Linked DNA regions of Homo sapiens. The protein of the gene in region 1 purifies or fractionates together with the protein of each later gene. This does not show direct contact. Each region holds a gene or a part of one and is shown in the gene's direction. Other genes may lie near its edges. The genes, in order: POC1A, ALMS1, CLOCK, MCM3AP, PPP1R12A and FKBP15.

Region 1 (3,500 bases):
CTCTTTGAGCCCAAGGGTCCATATCTGAAAAATAAGGTTAATAATGCCTATTGGGAAGGGCCATCATAAGGATGAAGTGAGGTTACACGTATTAAGTGAGGTGACATTAAATGAGGGCACACAGTGGATGGCAAGTAAACCATGGCGATTGCTGGACTGGTGGAGTGTTAAGTGCTGTGGTGTTTTCTGATGGGAGTGGGCAAGGAGGCAGGGAAATGGCTCAGGGCAGCACTAGAGTTTGAGGCTGGTTACCTTTAGACAGTCGTTTTCTGACTGAGCCTTAGTTCTCTTTATTGTCAAATGGAGACAGCCCATGAAAGTGTGGTATAGGTGGGAAAACATGGTGGCTGCCGCAACCCTCTGTTGTAAAGGCCACCTCTCCAGCTTGGAGTGCCATGGCCGCTGTCTTTAATACTCCCTTGGAGCTGGCTCAGCTTTGGCTCATCCAGGAGGGTTTCTATTGCTAAAGTCAGTGGTACTCACCCTGCCTCCCTGCAGCATCCACTGTGCTTCCAGAGGCTGAGCTCAGCACTGTCCATTTCTGGGCCATTCTGCAGAAACTCACATTTTCCATTCCCTCCTTCCTAAGCAGCCAGCAGCACCAGACTCTGGCCCATTCCATGACAATGCTGGCTGTGGGACAGAAGAGTTCCCTGCTCACACCCTTCCTCCAGTGGAAGAGTGTGTGTCTGCACTGCTAGGGGGTCCTCTGGAAGGAGTGGGCACAGCACTGAACATTTCTTAAGAAAGGCCTGCTGGTAGCTTCAGATAAGCACCTCTCACAGCCCAGCCGTTTGAAGGACTGGCCCAGTCTTCATCCCTATTTTATAGATGAGGAAATGGAGGCCCAGAGCTGGTCAGTGACTGTCTGAGTCACCATTCCTCACCACTGCACTCTGCTGTGTCTCCTGACAGAACTGCCTTAGTCTGGGGGCCACTGTGGTAGGCTGAAGTCTCTCCTGGCAAGGCTGGTGGACTTCTGAAATTTCCTTTTGGGATGGGCTTCTGGGTAAGCATTGAGATCTGAAGCACGTTGATTCCTGGAGGACTGGAAGAGACCCAGCCCTGATGGCCGAAGTCTTAGAAATGGCCACGGAAGTGGCCGACATGCTGATGATAGGTGTGTGGACACGGTGCTGCTCATGCTGTCAAGAACATCCCTCTGGCTCATGTCTCACATTCAAGTTCTCCTGTAGCTACCATGAGGGCCAGCATTTTTCCAAGTTCAAATCAGCATGCCCTTGAAAGTTTGTGATCTATGAGAATAGAATACTTACCTAATAAAGGAAAACATGCAGGTAGGGTCCATGTGCTGAACCACATTCCCACAGGAACAAGTCCACAGAGGAACTGCAGGCTCTAAGACCAGCCCTGCCCTTGGACATCCTTGGCTCCAGCATCCCGCCCACTGAACATGTGCACAGCACTTCTTCGGTCCACAGAAGCCTTTGTGCATAAGGCAAGGAGCTGACTTTGCTGAATTTAGGGGCTGAAGGGCCTTACGCAGAAACACTAAGCCCCTCACCTCCTGGAGTCCTATCTGAAGCAGCCCAGGGGTGCCTTTCCTGTGGAGTCTGATTCCTGCCAGCCATGTGCCAGCCTGGGACATGCACACAGAAATCTTTGTTTTTCCAGGGGATCTGGGCCAGGGTGGGGTTGGAACACCCCTCTCCCCGCCACACACACACTTCCACCAAGTTCTGGGCCACAGCTTCTTGGGCCTGGGAAAGGCATTTGTGAAGCCTGGCACACCCCCATGTTGAAGGGTGGGGAATTAGAGTTGAGCTGACCAGGAAGAGGAGGGACTTCAGGCCCAGGCCAGGCTTCAGCATCTCTGGACTCACCTGGATGCCTGCTGGTGGGTGCCAGCTGCTTGAAGATATGGGAGGCAGCTAGCTTCCCTGAGGGGCTCCAAGAGCAGGCTGAGGCCACTCACTGGCCTGCCTACCTGCCCTCCTCCCCAGGCCCCTTCCTGCCTGGATCACAAGGCATTCTGATTCCACTCCCCACTTAAGGCCTCTGCCTGGAAAGGTATGTGTGTGGACCCAGATGTGGGAACACCGCCACGCTGCTGTTTCTTACTGACACTTGGAGCTTACCTTCTCAAATTTGCTGGTGGTTTTCCCTTTCATCCTTTGGAGGGGCTATTCCTCTCACAGTATTTCTTCAAGCACTGGATAGACTGAGGAACTTTTTTCTTTCTGTCTTTAGCCAGAAGTGGACTTCCCTGTCCCCCCAGGCAGAGGCAGGAGTGTGGAGTCTGTGCAGAGCCAGCCCCAGGAGCCCGTGAGTGTGCCCCAGACACTGACTAGCACGCTGGAGCACATTGTGGGCCAGCTGGATGTCCTCACTCAGGTAGGCCACACTGTGGGTTCACCCGTCATCCCGTCATCTGCACTTGGTCCCGCATTTGGACCGTTTGAAGTTGGACAACAGGTGCTGGATTTTTAAAAACATAATTATAACGGACCTGTTTTCCAGTCCATATTAATGACATTGCAGAGCCTTCCCGGGGATCCTGGCTCTTGGAGCCATTCAAGCCCTGGCCAGACCACTAGACTCCAAAATCCCCAATGCTGGGTACTACTGGAGTGTGCTCACCTAGAGCTGGCCTGGGCCACTGAAGAGCTTTGAAAGAAACACTGTGTTTGTTTATTCCTCCCACTCTTTGCTGGATGGGCACTGCAGGGGCATGCCAGGGAACTGAGTAGTGAGTCAGGGCTTCTGAGAACCTAGGCTATGAGTTTGAGCCTGGACCTTTCCTTATCCTCTGTGCAACCTTGGGGAAATCCCTTTAGTTCACCAAGCCCTGGTATGTTTATCTGTAATGTGCTGGTGGTTGTGGGCTCTGCCTGCCACATTCATGGTGAGAATTAAGGGAGATGAATCTGGGAAATGTTTGGCCCATGCCTGGCCCTAGGTAGCTGCTCAATAAATGTTAGTTGTGGCCCTGACCACCCTCGTCACTGAGATGGATATGGGCCCTGCCCTCTGGAGCGTAGGTTGGCAGCCATAACACAGGCTCGTAGTGTAGCAGTTTCAGTAAGAGCAAAATCCCTTGACAAGAGGTGGTGGCCAGCAATAGGGGCATGCTTGGCAGGGCCATTTCACCCGAGGGAGGAAGAGAGGTCCTGGCTGCCTGTGGCTCTGGAGAGGCCATGGGCACGTCCAGGGAATGAGTGAAGCTCCAGGTGGCTGTCATGTGGATATGTGGTCTTGGGGTGGGGGGCAAGGCAGGATTTAGAGGTTCCCCAATTCCTCATCTCCTTGGCTCTTGAGGCCAGGCTGGGACTCTGCAGATCCTCCTCTACCATGCCAGCACATGGGTAGAGCGAGGCTGCAAGAGGGACACATGTGGCCCACGAGGAAAAGAGGTGTTAAAGCCAGGGGGTGGGGGATGGGGAAGCAAGGAAGAGTGGTCTCCAGTCCAGCTCACATGAAGGACGCAAAGGACCCTTGATGTCACTAACGGAAATGGAGCTGAGATGGCATGGTATCCT
Region 2 (2,291 bases), on another chromosome or scaffold:
CGCTGTTCATTATCTTATATTGAAACAGTCCATTTTTGCATGTAGAGCAGAAAGTAGAAGTTCAGCTCTCCTTCATTTATCTCACTCCTTTCCCCCCTTTATCCCACTTCTTTCCACATGTAAGCACTATTAGGATTTTATTGTGTTTGTATTTATCTCCCCTTCCAGATTGTGAGCCCCGGGCTAGGGTTTTCTGTGCTGGAGTATCTAACGGGGCCCAGGGCCTTTCTGAGAGGGATGAGCTCCTGGAGAGTGGGAGGTATAGGGAGGGATGATGAGAGGAGATCTCATGACTCTGCACCCTGGTAACCTCCCCGATTTCTGTCCTTTCACTGGTGCCATTTCTAAGGATTTATGAGCAGCTTCCAGAAGTACAGAAAAAGAGAGAAGAAGAGAAGAGAAAATCAGAATATAAGTCATACCGGCTGCGAGCCCAGCTATATAAAAAGGTCAGTGGGTCCTCTGTCTAGAGTGGGATGGATCAGGTTTATTGGCGGAAAGAGAAATGGAGAAAACACGTTGCCTGTTGAGTGTGAAGTCAGAATGAACCGCATTTGAGGAATGAACTTAGAATGCACTGGACCAGTGTTGAAATTTGGAAGAAGGCATCTGTAATTAGACTTCAAATCAGGTTTAACTCCCCATCCATAATGGTGTAAGGCCCTTTCCATGCATTCGTTTGCAGTGAAACCAAATTTCACACACAGGAGTTCATTGACATATCATGGTAGAAATACCAGAATTATCAGGTTTCCATTCCAGAGTCCCAGGTGGTGATTTCATGCCCCTCATTGGTGAGTCAGATACCTTTAGAACTGTTAAACTGGAAAATGTGTAACTGCGGCATAAGAGTTGTCCACTTGGATGGTCAGAGGCCTCCAACTTGTCACCATGCCCTGCCCATTGTCCCAGTAGAGTCAGCGTTGCTGCAAGTCCAAGAACCTCACGGGGCAGGGTTGGTGTTACCAGTTAATTCTCTGAGAAACCAGACCGGCTCCTATGCCTGAAGGGCCATATACTTCACTGTAGTTGTTTCCTTCTCACCCTGTCAGTCACCAGACTGATGTGGGATGGGAGCTGCTTCTGGAGCAGGCCCCAGAACCCAGGCGGGTGCCTCAGGTGGAGGCCCCAGGCACCACACCACCTGTCTGGTGTGTCAGCATCGCAGGGCCAGGCCTCTCCTTATGCTACTGTATGTGGGAACTGATGGATTATCTGTGTCTCTATAGAAATAATAGATATTGATTACAGATCCTCTTTCCTGAACCTTTCGTGAAGTATTTTTTATATGACGACCATAGTTTCTGAAGCAGAGTAAAATGAACAAGATTTGAATAGGACCACACTGATTCTCCTTGGTGACATGGATGCAGGGAGGAGAGGCATCTGCCTCTGATGGCAGTAATATCTAACTTCTTTCCTGCCTTTCTTTTCTTCTACAGAGAGTGACCAATCAACTTCTGGGGAGAAAAGTTCCCTGGGACTGACACAAGTTTATTTTCCTCAGAGCCTTGGAATTCTATTTTATGAACCTAGAGAAGCAGAATCCTTACTTTTGTGAGTCTGGTTGAATAAAGCTTATTCTTTGTCCATGTGTATTTTAGAAATAGTAACTTCTAAAGAGTCTGGAACAAAGTGGTGATTAAAATTCCTAATGGTTTGGGAGCAATACTTTCTGCATAGTGGCCTTGTCCAATGGCCTGTGTGTTACAATGATATGATCATTTCTCAAGAATAAGTCCCTTTTTGTATGTGTTTTTATACTTTTAGAAAATAAAAACTTTAGATTAACTCATAGTAAACAATTCTTTCCCATCTGGAGAGATGCAAGGAGCTATGCATTGTCTCCACCGAGGTGTCTAAATGCATCAGTTGAGGGAAATGGGCTCTTAGAAGGAAATGTAGCCTGTATCTTTAGAAACACAATGTGCTGTAGTGGGAGCACTGTTGTGGGCTTTGAGGAGACGGTGTCTGGTTAGATGCCCACCGGGTGCACCCAGAGACTGCAGCAGGAGAGGTGTCTTGGGTCCAGAGCCTCCTTTCAGCCCCAGTCCAGCTCCCCCAGGGACTCTCTGTGTAGGCTGGGGAGAAAGGCCACTAGCCTTGGCTGATGGATCTTCCTCCACCCACACTCGGTTTTGGGATTAAAGCCTCAGACCATTTATCATTACACGTGAAACCAACACTTACAACATAAAGGACAACTTGTGAAAAAGATGAGTCAATGAATGAGATAAAGCATTTAACCCAGTAACTGGATCAGAATGTAACAGGATTTTTTTTTTTTTTTT
Region 3 (3,500 bases), on another chromosome or scaffold:
CAGGAGGATTGCTTGAGCCTAGAAGCTTGCAACCAGCCTGGGCAACATAGTGAGACCCCATTTCTATAAAAAATTAAAAATTAGCCAGGCATGGTGGCTCACACCTGTAGTCTTGCGTACTTGGGAGGCTGAGGCAGGGGGCTCACTTGAGCCCAGGAGTTCAATGCCACAGTGAGCAGTGATCATGCCACTGCACTCCAGCCTGGGTGACAAATCAAGACCCTGTCTCAAAAAAAAGAAGAAAGTAAGGACCCAAAGGTGTAGATGCTAAAGGAATAAGGAACAGTGATGTGGCCCGGGTCCTAGAGAAAATAGGAAAGACTATAAATGGTAGAGATGGAAGGATTAGCTTTAGAATGTGAAGCAAAACTTTCCTTTGAAAGTGAGTAAAGAATGAAAAGGATGAGTAGCTAAAAATAGGGAAACATTAAGTTGTTTGCACCAGAAAATCTATTTTTTCTATTAAAGACAAAGTGAGATCCTCTCCTGAAGGTGCTCTACTTTTATGAACTAAATGTCATTGACGACTTCTGTTGGGGAAAATAATGGTTGTAAACTTACACAACTTTTATGATCTTACTTTATGTGGTATATCAATCATTGTTTTATATCAGAAATATGTGATTTTTAAAATCTCTTTTATTTCAGCAAAAAATCAGTTAGAATTCTGTTGTCACATGCTGCGAGGAACAATAGACCCAAAGGAGCCATCTACCTATGAATATGTAAAATTTATAGGAAATTTCAAATCTTTAAACAGTGGTGAGTTAAAATGCTTCTCTCACAATGTGTTTTAACTTGTTATTTTTCTGTGCTCTTAAAGACATAGATGTTTGAATATCAGTGACAATTAGGTTTTGCTGGCATAACTGATGATACATATTTCCCTATTGTTTTAGTATCCTCTTCAGCACACAATGGTTTTGAAGGAACTATACAACGCACACATAGGCCATCTTATGAAGATAGAGTTTGTTTTGTAGCTACTGTCAGGTTAGCTACACCTCAGTTCATCAAGGTATGTTTTTAATTTTATTTCCCAAAGGGGATTTCAGTTCATATGCTGAGAGCTGCCTGAAACTTCCTGCAGACATTGAGGTGGAATGGCTATGAGTCATTAAATATGCATGATAATATTTTTGAAACGATGAGTTATCAAGACACTCATTAAATTGTATAACTAATTTTTTAGTATATATCCTTTGCAGTTAACCAGTGATTATTATATATCAATATTGCCCTACTTTTGTGGAAGATTTTAGGATCCTTTTGTGTGTTGTTCATTATCTCTATTAAAAGGGAAAGTCCAAAAATCTAGGTTTTTGGAATCTTTATTTTTAGAAGGTAACTTTTAAATTTTTATTTGAAATGTACAAGTGGCTCTTTGCCACATATAACTTACCTTTTCAAATGTAAAATTAGGTATTTTATTTTTATTTCCTGGACCCAACAAACAGATGACAAGTAGGGAAGTGGGAAAGTGAAAGAGTTAACCACTAGAAACTGACTGGAAAGAGGCAGCCAGGCTAAGATTTAAAATTTCGGCGGGGCCAGGCGAGGTGACTCATGCCTGTAATCCCAGCACTTTGGGAGAGCAAGGCGAGAGGATTGCCTGAGCCCAGTAGTTTGAGACCAGCCTGGGCAACGTGACAAGACCCCATCTCTACAAAAAATACAAAAAATTAGCCAGGCATGGTGTTACACACCTGTGGTCTCAGTTACTCAGGAGGCTGAGGCAGGAGGATCATTTGAGCCCAGGAGGTCGAGGCTGCAGTGAACTGTGTTTGCATTTTATTTTGAGACAGAGTCTGACTCTGTCTCAAATAAATTTGGGGGGACATCATAGTATAGGACAAAGTACTGAATTAATAGAAGATCTTAAGCCAGTCTTGCTTGGTTTGTTTTGATCTTATGAAATAATAGTTGTTAACATTTGAGTGCTTACTACATGCTGTGTATTTTATATGCATTATCTCATTAATTCTTATGACAACCCTATAAGTTAGATGCCATTACGATCCCTCATTTTACATTATAAGGAAACAGGCTTAGGGAAGTTAAGTGACTTGCCCAAAGTCTCAGCTATTAGTGATGAAACTGGGACTTGATTCTATTAATTAATAATTGTTTTTTTCTCAAAGCCCAAGCTCTCAACTATTACAGAGTGCTGCAGGTCATTCAGGGACACAGAGGCAGGATGGAATACATTGTTTAGTATGACTAGAGTCTAGGGTTAGTGTGTGGAGGGGGAAGAGATAGTGGGAGGTAAGGCTAGAAAAGTAATCAGAAACCAGAAATAAAATTTGTTTCTTTCTTGTTTATTTCTCCATGCTGAAGAGAGTTTAGCACAAGGAACCACTGAAGGTTTTTTAGCAGGGAAGTCATATAATATTTGAGTATTGGTAAGGTAATTGTGGCCCTAGAAGAGAAGATGAGTTGAAGGACAGGGAGACTGGTGAACACTGTAGCAAATCAGTGATGGCAGGGGTCTAAACCAATGCACTCAAGATGGATGAGATAGAATTGATTTTTAAAATACTTAGATGAAATGGAAAAGATTTAGTAATGGCCACTTAGATGATGAAAGGTAAAAATGAAAGAGTATGTTTTTTTAACTATCAGATTTCTAGACACTGGCCACTACACATGTATAGAATAATACGGAAAATTGTGTGATTGGGTGTGAGGAGTAAAGCAGTTAGTTTATTTTAGGACATATTGAATTTGAGATGTATGAGGACATTCAGATATTTGGAAATATGGAACTGTAATTCAGGAGAGAGGTCTGAATTTTGAATAAGCGTTTATAGGCATGTGTGAATGGAAAATGTGTAGAGTGAGAAGTACCCACCCAAAAGCTTGCATCTAAAGGTTATTTATTACCACATTCTTTAGTACTGGAAAATTAAAATATATTAACTTGTTTAGAAGGGCCTGCATTTTGGCTTATGCCTAGAATCCCAGCACTTTGGGAGGCTGTGGTGGGCAGGTTGCTTGAGCCCAGGAGTTGAAGACCAGCCTAGACAACATAGACCCCCCACCTCTACAAATAAAAATACAAAAATTAGCCGGGCGTGGTGGTGCATCCCTATAGTCCCAGCTACTTGGGAAGCTGAGGCAGGAGGATCGCTTGAGCCTAGGATGTTGAGGCTGCAGTGAACTGAGATCACACCACTGTACTTCAGGCTGAGTGACAGAGTGAGACCCTGTGTCAAACAAAGAAATAGGTAAATATATACATACATAGAAACAACTAACTTGTTTAGGAAAAGTTTATCTAGTAATGACTATTTATTTATGTATTTATTTAACCTCCACCTCCTGGGTTCAAGTGATCCTGCTGCCTCAGCCTGCCGAATAGCTGGGATTACAGGTGCCCGCCACCGTGCCCTGCTATTTTTTGTATTTTTAGTAGAAATCGGGTTTCACCATGTTGGCCAGGCTGGTCTCAAACTCCTGACCTAAGTGATTTGCCCACCTCAGCCTCCCAAAGTGCTGGG
Region 4 (3,500 bases), on another chromosome or scaffold:
TTGAAGGAACCCAAAGGGAAGCAAACCACTCAGCACAAGCCCTCGGTGCTCTGGTTAGGTTGGGGTTCCCCAAAATAAGCTAAGACTGCTTATACCAGACTCATCTGGGTGCTTGTTAAAATACAGATTTCCTAGGCACAACCACAGGCCTGTACAGTCAGAACTTCTGGGTAGAACTTGGCTAGCAACACTGTTAAGGGGGACTGTCTGCATCCCTCACCTAGACCCTGGGAGCAAGCTGCTCTTCCCCCTCAACAACTGTGGTTCTGCTGTGTTTAGAAAGCAGACTTCTCAACTTCACAGTTGCCTTCTCCTGAGAAAATGTTTTCATGTACATTTTCACCTGTATTTTGGCCAAACCTGTAACTAATGAGGCACTTTCTCCCCAGCCCCCTGGCTCCCCGTGTGCTCCATGGTTGTCCAGTACGCCTCCCAGATCCCCAGCTCACGCCAGACACAGCCTGTCCTCCAGTCCCAGGTGGAGAACCTGCTCCACAGAACCTACTGTAGGTGGAAGAGCAAGAGTCCCTCCCCAGTCCATGGGGCAGGCCCCTCGGTCATGGAGATCCCATGGGATGATCTTATCGCCTTGTGTATCAACCACAAGCTGAGAGACTGGACGCCCCCCCGGCTTCCTGTTACATCAGGTAATTAGAGCTTGATGCAATGGGATCAGCTCCTCACGAGACTTTCCTGGTCCAGTTTCTGCAAAGGAAGATGTTTAGTTGATGTTGCTGCTTTTCTTTTGGGTCTCTATCCTTCCTTTCCTTAGGACTTCCCTCTTCAAGTGAGTGACTTAAAAACATTGAGACAGGCTAGGAAGTTTCTGGTAGAGCCTGAACTCACCTCCCTGAAACAGGCCCCCTAGGATGGCTCTTAGAGAGGATTTTGTGGCTTTTGAGTAGTCATTACTGGCCCTGCCAGTCTCGATGTAAGCTTGTCTGGACTTTGAGTGATGCATGGACCCTGGGAGCCTATTTAACCCAAGTGTGGAAGTCACATAATTGTGTGACTTTAATCAAAGGTCTTGCACTTAAATCAGTGAATTTAAGCACATGCCACCTGTCGCTGTTTAAATATTATTTGTACCTGTTTTTGTTTTTTTGTGTGTGTTTTTTTTTTTTTTGAGACAGGGTTGGCCAGGCTGGCCTCTTTATCTGTTTTTGTATTGTTTTCTCAGAGGCGCTGAGTGAAGATGGTCAGATATGTGTGTATTTTTTTAAAAACGATTTGAAAAAATATGATGTTCCTTTGTCGTGGGAACAAGCCAGGTTGCAGACGCAGAAGGAGCTACAGCTGAGAGAGGGACGGTGAGGTTCATGTTCAGTATGTTTCTGTTGCTTGCTAAACTGTATTTTTCTTGCAAAGTAAATAGAAATTAACATCCTACATGCCAAATCCAGTCCACTGTGGGCAGACTGTGACAAATCCTCAAGGAACAGATCATTCCCATGCAGTAGAAACTATTCTAGAACAAAGTTAAAGCATCTCACTTCATTTATCAGGCATACCTGACCCTGAAATCATACCTAACCAGGAGAGTACAGCTGACATTTCATCTCACTTCCAAATTTGGTTCCAAAGCACAGTACCTAAAAAAGTTCACAAGTATGCTTTCTCCCAGGATAAACAATAACAGTGAAAATCTATTAATGTAATTTGTTGCCATAATAGAAAAATAAGTGGTAATTTTAGCAGGCGTTGAAATACGTTTCTTAAAATTTATACCTGTTCCTGATAAAATTTCTTTATTTTGGGTACTTTCTTTAGCTTGGGTTAAAAAAAAAAAAAGTCCTAACTTGATAAGGCTACCTAACATAAAACTACCAAAATAGAAAAAAAACATGCTTCTTGGTAGAATGTTAGGAACAGTGGAATCAGAACCAGCCTGTTGTCCCGACTATTATTCACTATTGTCCTGGAAATCCTGACCAGTACAGGGATGTGGGATAGACAGGCACAAATACTGAAAGGAAGGAGAAACTGTCATTTCCAGACAGTACAGTTGTCAGTCCAAGAAAAGTCAAGTCCATAGAACCATTCTCAGTTCAATAAGGTGATCAGATAGATAGATCCACAACATGTTAAAAAAAAAAAAATTCTCATTCACAACAATAAACCTGAACAGAAAGGGCACAGGATGGTGGAACTTTGCTGTTCCTTCTTGTTCCCCATAGAGATCCTTGAAGTACCTTCTCCAACTCCATGATACTCTAAAAACTGTTCATCTTCATAATAGGAGTGGAGCCTAATCCTTGGTCTCCTCACCTCCTGGTTTCCCGGAATGTCTTTCTCATTAACATATGAGTTCTCAGGGCCTGTATGTGCAAAGGAAACCTGAACCATTGAGGTTCAGACTAGGTTGTTGACAGGATACAATGCTGTGAAGATGTCAGTACTGGTAAGTTCTAAAATTCATCAGGATAAACAAATATGCATCAATTGCTGAGAAAGTTTTAAATAAGACTAACATGGTTTGCTTGGCCTGATACCAAGACATACAGTAAAGCTCCAGTACTTAAAACCATGTGGGGATGCCAGAGTAGATAAATGGATCAGAATAAAGAGTCAGAATATGTGACAAAAGTGTTAGGCCAAATTATTGAAATTAGTGGGGAAAAGACAAACATTGGCATGTGTTTAGAAAAAAATGTCAGATGCCTTCTCTCTCACCATTTGTAAACATTACTTCCAAATGTATCCAAGAGCTATCTATAAAAAACCTTGCCAATACTAGGGAAGAACAGAATCTGGAACCCTAGGGTGGGAAGCAAGACATGAAGCAGAGAAGCTCCAAAAACCTAGCTGCCTCTTGAGAGCAGAAGCTTCCAAGAGGAACAGGCAGTCTCAATGCCTCTGTGCATAAGGGTCCCTACAGTGCAGGGGCTGCCTTCCCTCTTTGCTCCACTCCCTGACTTGATGGAAGCTTGGAAGCAGGCATGGGGCCAGCATGAGCTGTTCCAGGAGGGCACATGTGTCTGAGGCACATGTTCTTACATGTTAATGCACATGTGCAAATGTATCTACATGCTTTACATGATGCTGTAGAAATATTTTCTCTTGACCATAAACATTTCAAATCATGTACTTACAGTTTGGCAATAAAGCCTTTTCATCCTTCTGCAAACAATTTTCCCATACCATTGCTTCACATGCACCGTAACTGGAAGAGGAGCACAGAGTGTGCTCAAGAGGGGAGGATTCCCAGCACAGAGGATCTGATGCGAGGAGCTTCTGCTGAGGAGCTCTTGGCGCAGTGTTTGTCGAGCAGTCTGCTGCTGGAGAAAGAAGAGAACAAGAGGTGAAGCCCACTTCCTTCTAATTCATGTGTGTTTAGTCTGCTTTATGCTGTGAGGGGAGACTGGTTATTGCTTGATTAATATAAGACAGCCAGGATGGAGAAGGGCAGGTGGATTATTAGCAACAGTTTTAGTGATGTAACTATTTAAAAGCTCTTTGAAGACAGAAGCAGTGCCCTAGATAGTATGTTTCTAACTGTT
Region 5 (3,500 bases), on another chromosome or scaffold:
AAATTTGTGTCTAAAAGAATGTGCAGTGTAAAATATTTCTCTGCATAGTTTTCTTTTTAGAAAAGCTGTAACACTTTATGCTCATGCCTTTCAAAAGTTTTTATTGAAATCATCCTAAATCCATTTTTAAAAACCTACCTAAACAAACAAATAAAACCCTCCCAACCCCAAACTGGCCCCTCACTTCCTACAAATAAGTGGGCAACCCTAGCCATATATGGGGTGTGCTGGTAGGGCACCAGTGCCCACACTGCTGCTGTTCTAATGCTTTTTCTGTAGTTGCTGCCTCTGTGCTTCCTGGCAACACTTTTGTGGTCTGACTTTGAGGTGTCATAACCAAGACCATCTTTCATGTGCCTCAGCTACAGTATGATTGCAAGCTGTGACTGAGCATTTTCTATAGCCAGGTAGAAACACTGGATGGAATAGAGGAAGTGTTTTTCATCATCCATTTGTTATTACCACATTTAAAAATTACAGTTCACATAAGAAAAGTGTTTTAAAAATCTTATTAGATGATTTTTAAAAGAAAACTATTTAAAAACCTTTTAATAGGGGGAGGCATAAAACGTTGTTTTGTTACTACCATAACATGTTACTTCTTGACACTATATGAAGTTGCTATTTTCATTGCCTCTGCCTGCAAAAAATTGCCATCTTTTACTCCACCCTTCTTTTGAAAGTTTGTGGGGCTCCACAATAAGGTTGAGAAGATGATGAGGTATTGGCATTTTGGTATACCTCTTTGAAAGGTTGAAGAACTCCAACAATTATAAGTTTATTCTCAGTTGGAGTCAGATATGTAGTAGCCATGACTTAATCAGTGTTTTATTGAGGAGCAGTGCTTTTCCAAACAATAGTTTAATTTTCACAACATGCTTTTTCACTTGCTCAAAGTTAACAAGAAAATAAATGGCAGAGCTGGAATTCTTATGCAGGTCTGTTTGATGCCGAAACTCAAACTTTACCCTATGCCAGGTATCTTCTTTGAAGTCTGAAGAAGAAAATATTCTTAAATCTTTTCATCATTATGGTGGTGTTTAGTAATTGGAGGTTTCTCTGTAAATTAGCTGAAAATCAAGTGAAACACACATATAATTTTTTTCTTCATCCACATTTGTTTTAGCTAGCCCATACTTTTAAGACCTTTCTATGGTAATTGAAGTGCAGTAGTACTGTATCTAAATTAATCTCAGAATTCGAAATTGTCCTAAATTTTAGGAAGTGCCAAGATTATTTTTGACTTACCATTATGTGCAGAATATATCAGCAGCAACAAGAAACACTCCTTTTTTCAGGACATAGAATTTAATTTTTAACTACCTTTATTTTTCTTTACCCTAATAGCAATTTATATCGTTTCAGTTGTTGGGTGTGTGTGTGGGTGTGGTGTGTGTATGTGTGTTTTGAGACAGGGTGACAGACTCTGTCACCATGGCTGGAGTGCAGTGGCATGAACATAGTTCACTGTAGCCTTCCTGGGCTCAAGTGATCCTCCCACCTCAGCCTCCCGATCAGCTGGGAATACAGGCATGTGCCACCACTTCCAGCTAATTTTTTTTTTTCTTTGACAGAGTCTCCCCGTGTTGCCCAAGCTAGTCTCAAACTTCTGGGCCCAAGTGATCCTCCCACCTCAGCCTCCCAAAGTGCTGGGATTACAGGCGTGAGCCACTGCACTTAGCCTGTTTTAGTTTTTTTTAATCATTTACAGTAAATTTTTTATACATACGTACATGTACATATTTGATTCTTTTTAGAGACAAATTGTAGGAAACTTCATACCATGGATACTGGGGGTGGGGGGGAAGAAGTCCCTTATATACCCTTAAGGTAGGGACTTTGATTCTTTTTTTCTTTAAATCTCCTTTTGTATCGGCATTTTGTTTTAGTAGGTACACAATAAATATTTAATGATTAAAAAAAATTGGACACAATGTAAACTAATATTTTGAAGAGCAGAATTCATAGAATATTAAATAATTGGGTAAGTGTAACACACTGACAAACTTTTAAAATGTCCTAATAAAAAAGCTTATATCAACCACTTACTTTTATAATACTTACAATGTAAAGGTAGCCATTATTACAATCAAAACATTTATTAGGTGGCTGGGTATGGTGGCTCACGCCTGTAGTCCTAGCACTTTGGGAGGCCTAGGCAGGCGGATCACCTGAGCTCAGGAATTTGAGATCAACCTGGCCAACATGGCAAAACCCCATCTCTACTAAAAATACAAAATAAAAATTAGCCAGGCATGGTGGCGCATGCCTGTAATCCCAGCTACTCAGGAGGCTGAGGCACGAGAATCGCCTGAACCCAAGAGGCAGAGGTTGGAGTGAACTGAGATCATGCCTCTTCACTCCAGCCTGGGCGACAGAGCGAGATTCTGTCTTAAAGAAAAAAATTATTGGGATGTTAGATTTATTTTTGAAATGAGATCTATTACTGATTATCAATAGACGCTTCAGTTTATGTAACTTAGTTTAAAAATTCTTTAAACAAATCCTTGAGTGTTCATTTAGAAAAGTAATCTCTAGGCTGGATGCAGTGGCTCACACCTGTAATCCCAGCACTTTGAGAAGCCAAGGCAAGAGACTTGATCCCAGAAGTTCAAGACCAGCCTGGGCAATATAGGGAGACGGTGTCTCTACCAATAAAGAGAAAAGAAAAGAAAGAAAAAGAAAAGAAATCTCTAGCATGGTAATATTAGAAATAATGCATATTTTCTGTTATTTTACTGATACTTTTTTTTTCCAAATAACATTTTTACTATGGCTCCCTCTATGTCAGTATTTTCTGACCTTATTAGTGTTTTGGTTGTTTATCTTTGCATTGTTATGCTGGCTAACCATAAAAAGACACGCTTGAGTTCTGTGTTACTGCCCTAAGTGTGCTTGCTGCTCAACTCAAATGCTCTTTCATGGGAGGAGACATTCCACATTGTCATGTGTTGTATAGGCATTTCTGAAATGACATTCAGTAGAAACCATGGAAAGAAGTGAAAGCATTCCTCAGCTGTCACTTTTTTAGTAGTCTATTTAAATGTTATGTATATTAAGTGAGATATTCTGCAGAGAGAGCTTCACTTAATAAAAAGCTTTACTTTAACTTGATGATTTAACTCACATTTGAGCTGAAATTACTATTTTCTTAGTTTAACATGACCTCTAACAATAAAATCATAAGATTGTACAAAGCTCATGTCATTTTCTTGAATACTGCATAGTGCAGAGGAGAATACATTTTGTGAGATGTCACTTGGCACCCTCTTAAAGATTAATAACCATGTGGGAAAGTATATTTTCATGGACTGTTACACACACACACACACACACGTACACGTATGCACTCAACCTTTACTTGTAATAAACATCCCAAATTATATATATTTTATTAGCCTTCAAAATTGTTTTAGATGGTTATAAACTTATTTGAATATTTATATTCTTGCATGGAACACTTCTAGAGCTTTTCTGTTGGAGTTTCAGCTCCAGAACAT
Region 6 (3,500 bases), on another chromosome or scaffold:
TCTTGCAGATGAATGACAAATGGGTTGCTGTTAATGCTGAATGTTTATGTCTAAATGACTAGTTATTACCTACCCTCCTGCTCTTTTTTCATTATATTTTTTACCTGATTGGGAACAAGGCAAGCAACCTTCTTGGGAAAGAGAAAGTGAAGTTTTGCGTTGAAGTCGAATGATGAGGAGATAGAACTCTCTGAGGCAGAGGGTCGTGGGTGGGGGCTGAGGGAGTGGACACCAGCAGACCTAGGCGAGGTTAAGACTTGATGTTTAGAGATTCTGGAGAGGATGTGGAGAAATAGGAACGCTTTTACACTGTTGGTGGGAGTGTAAATTAGTTCAACCATTGTGGAAGACAGTGTGGCGATTCCTTAAGGATCTAGAACTAGAATTACCATTTGACCCAGCAATCCCATTACTGGTTATATACCTAAAGGATTATAAATCATGCTACTATAAAGACACATGCACATGTATGTTTATTGTGGCACTATTCACAATAGCAAAGACTTGGAACCAACCCAAATGTCCATCAGTGATAGACTGGATTAAGAAAATGTGGCACATATACACCATGGAATACTATGCAGCCATAAAAAAGGATGAGTTCATGTCCTTTGCAGGGACATGGTTGAAGCTGGAAACCATCACTCCCAGCAAACTATCACAAGGACAGAAAACCAAACACTGCATGTTCTCACTCATAGGTGGGAATTGATCAGTGAGAACACTTGGACACAGGGCGGGGAACATCACACACCGGGGCCTGTCGGGGGTTGGGGGACGGGGGGAGGGATAGCATTAGGAGAAATACCTAATGTAAATGATGAGTTGATGGGTGCAGCACACCAACATGGCACATGTATACCTATGCATCAAACCTGCACATTGTGCACATGTGCCCTAGAACTTAAAGTATAATAATAATAAAAAAAAAGAATTTGAAATAAAATTGTCTTTTTATTATATGCAAAAAAAAAAAAAAGAGACTTGATGTTTGGGTGGTTCTCCTCCCCTTGGGTTTTCTGACCTTCACCTGGTTCCTGAGGCCACAGCCACAGTCTGTTTGTTTTGCAGTGTTTAGCCCTCCAGGCCCAAATCACAGCTCTCACCAAGCAAAATGAACAGCACATCAAGGAACTAGAGAAGAACAAGTCCCAGATGTCTGGGGTTGAAGCTGCTGCATCTGACCCCTCAGAGAAGGTGAGCTGGTATTTCAAATGAGAAGCAAGCCATTTATATCAAGCATTCAGAAAGAACATGGCCAGTATGTTGTGTTAATAGCTCTTTTTCTAACTTTAGTGATGTTTTACTTGTCTGATGACTTTAAAATGAACCAGATTTGGTGTTTGTTTGTTTGAGACGGAGTCTCACTTTGTCACCAGGCTAGAGTGCAGTGATGTGATCTTGGCTCACTGCAACCTCCGCCTCCCAGGTTCAAGCGATTCTCCTGCCGCAGCCGCCTGAGTAGCTGGGACTACAGGCACGCGCCACCACACCCAGCTAATTTTTGTATTTTTAGTAGAGACAGGGTTTCACCATGTTGGCCAGGATGGTCTCGGTCTCTTGACCTTGTGATCCGCCTGCCTCAGCCTCCCAAAGTGCTGGGATTACAGGCATGAGCCACCATGCCCGGCCCAGATTTGGTTCTTGAGTTTAAGGAGCTTACAGCCTAGTGGGAAAACAAACAAATACATACTTACATATTAAGTGGCAAACCCAAAAGAACCCTATCTTTCTGAGGTTTTGACAGGTATAGGAAGGGCCTCTAACCACAGAAGAAGAATGGGGCTTGGGGAGTGTGCCCAGCATCCACTGGCCTCTGACCCTTAGAGCCTATGGCAGCTCCTAGTGGTGCTCACAGTGGGAGGGGGACATCAAGAAATGGTCTTTAAGCAGTCTTGGGCACACAGACCACAGCTTGCCTGCCCTTGATAGGTAACTCTCATGACTAGCCCTTCTGTCAAAGTGCTGCTCATTATTTAATATCATCCTCTCCACAGTGACAGCCTTCAGTGTCTCTGCTTATGACCAGCAGTATCCCAGTGTAGAGATCTAAGATGGCTTCATTTTGGCCTTCCATACACCTCTCTGGAATTTAATGCATCCTTTAGTGACTTGATTTTGACAGCATGTGTTTTGATGTTCACACAGGTCAAGAAGATCATGAACCAGGTGTTCCAGTCCTTACGGAGAGAGTTTGAGCTGGAGGAATCTTACAATGGCAGGACCATTCTGGGAACCATCATGAATACGATCAAGGTACAGCCAGCCAGCTGTCATTTGTTTCATCGTATTGGGCATTTTGTTGCTTAAGTACCTTCTAAGGGATCATGAATAAAAAATTGTTCAAAGCTGGCACAGTGGCTTATGCTTGTAATCCCAGCATTTTGGGAGGCCAAGGTGGGAGGACTGCTTGAGGCCAGGAGCTTGAGACCAGCTTGGGCAACATAATGAGACTTTGTCTCTACTAAAATTAAAAATTTAAAAATTAGCCGGGTATGGTGGCACGTGCCTGTAGTCCCAGCTACTTGGGAGGCTGAGGCAGGAGAATCACTTGAGCCCAGGAGTTCAAGACTACAGTGAGCCATGATTGCCCCCAACTGCACTCCAGCCTGGATAACAGAGCAAGACCCTGTCTCCAAAGAAAAAAAAAAGAAAATTATTCAGGACTGTTCCTCAGTAATTAGGATGCCTGGAGTGACTTGACAGATATAGTCAGCCTCTTTTAACAGGAAAGAAGCAAAGTCATTTAAACTACATGACCAGTAGTGTTAATAAGAATTAGGAGTGGCTACTGTGTTCCTTTCAGTGACCATCTCTTCCTTGGCTTTTGAATAGATGGTGACTCTTCAGCTGTTAAACCAACAGGAGCAAGAGAAGGAAGAGAGCAGCAGTGAAGAAGAAGAAGAAAAAGCAGAAGAGCGGCCACGAAGACCTTCCCAGGAGCAGTCAGCCTCAGCCAGTTCTGGGCAGCCTCAAGCACCCCTGAATAGGGAGAGGCCAGAGTCCCCCATGGTGCCCTCAGAGCAGGTGGTCGAGGAAGCTGTCCCGTTGCCTCCTCAGGCCCTCACCACTTCCCAGGATGGACACAGAAGGAAAGGGGACTCAGAAGCTGAGGCACTCTCAGAGATAAAAGATGGTTCCCTTCCACCCGAACTGTCTTGCATCCCATCCCACAGAGTTCTAGGGCCCCCGACTTCAATTCCACCTGAGCCCCTAGGCCCTGTATCCATGGACTCTGAGTGTGAGGAGTCACTTGCTGCCAGCCCAATGGCAGCTAAGCCCGACAACCCATCAGGAAAGGTCTGTGTCAGGGAAGTAGCACCAGATGGCCCACTACAAGAAAGCTCCACAAGACTGTCCCTGACTTCAGACCCCGAGGAGGGGGACCCACTGGCCTTAGGGCCTGAAAGCCCAGGAGAGCCTCAGCCTCCACAGCTCAAGAAAGATGATGTCACTAGCTCCACCGGTCCCCACAAGGAGCTGTCAAGCACAGAGGCAGG

Evidence for each region.
Region 2: the proteins of POC1A (region 1) and ALMS1 purify together in Homo sapiens (co-immunoprecipitation; one large-scale study listed by IntAct). This does not show direct contact.
Region 3: the proteins of POC1A (region 1) and CLOCK purify together in Homo sapiens (co-immunoprecipitation; 2 studies listed by BioGRID and IntAct, with this or other methods). This does not show direct contact.
Region 4: the proteins of POC1A (region 1) and MCM3AP purify together in Homo sapiens (co-immunoprecipitation; one large-scale study listed by IntAct). This does not show direct contact.
Region 5: the proteins of POC1A (region 1) and PPP1R12A purify together in Homo sapiens (affinity purification with mass spectrometry; one large-scale study listed by BioGRID and IntAct). This does not show direct contact.
Region 6: the proteins of POC1A (region 1) and FKBP15 purify together in Homo sapiens (affinity purification with mass spectrometry; one large-scale study listed by BioGRID and IntAct). This does not show direct contact.

The regions. Positions count from the first base shown.
Region 1 is NC_000003.12:52,095,424-52,098,923, reverse strand, and holds part of POC1A (POC1 centriolar protein homolog A), read left to right. Parts: intron 1-2,211; coding exon 2,212-2,355; intron 2,356-3,500.
Region 2 is NC_000002.12:73,608,126-73,610,416, forward strand, and holds the end of ALMS1 (centrosome-associated protein ALMS1), read left to right. Parts: intron 1-349; coding exon 350-449; intron 450-1,442; coding exon 1,443-1,487; 3' UTR 1,488-1,791; downstream 1,792-2,291. UniProt on the Homo sapiens protein: Involved in PCM1-dependent intracellular transport. Required, directly or indirectly, for the localization of NCAPD2 to the proximal ends of centrioles.
Region 3 is NC_000004.12:55,456,410-55,459,909, reverse strand, and holds part of CLOCK (circadian locomoter output cycles protein kaput), read left to right. Parts: intron 1-648; coding exon 649-762; intron 763-899; coding exon 900-1,018; intron 1,019-3,500. UniProt on the Homo sapiens protein: Transcriptional activator which forms a core component of the circadian clock.
Region 4 is NC_000021.9:46,240,612-46,244,111, reverse strand, and holds part of MCM3AP (germinal-center associated nuclear protein), read left to right. Parts: intron 1-389; coding exon 390-647; intron 648-1,112; exon of another isoform or gene 1,113-1,180; coding exon 1,181-1,310; exon of another isoform or gene 1,311-3,094; coding exon 3,095-3,301; intron 3,302-3,500.
Region 5 is NC_000012.12:79,925,098-79,928,597, reverse strand, and holds part of PPP1R12A (protein phosphatase 1 regulatory subunit 12A), read left to right. Parts: intron 1-3,500. UniProt on the Homo sapiens protein: Key regulator of protein phosphatase 1C (PPP1C). Mediates binding to myosin. As part of the PPP1C complex, involved in dephosphorylation of PLK1. Capable of inhibiting HIF1AN-dependent suppression of HIF1A activity.
Region 6 is NC_000009.12:113,169,278-113,172,777, reverse strand, and holds part of FKBP15 (FK506-binding protein 15), read left to right. Parts: intron 1-1,071; coding exon 1,072-1,197; intron 1,198-2,148; coding exon 2,149-2,256; intron 2,257-2,835; coding exon 2,836-3,500. UniProt on the Homo sapiens protein: May be involved in the cytoskeletal organization of neuronal growth cones. Seems to be inactive as a PPIase. Involved in the transport of early endosomes at the level of transition between microfilament-based and microtubule-based movement.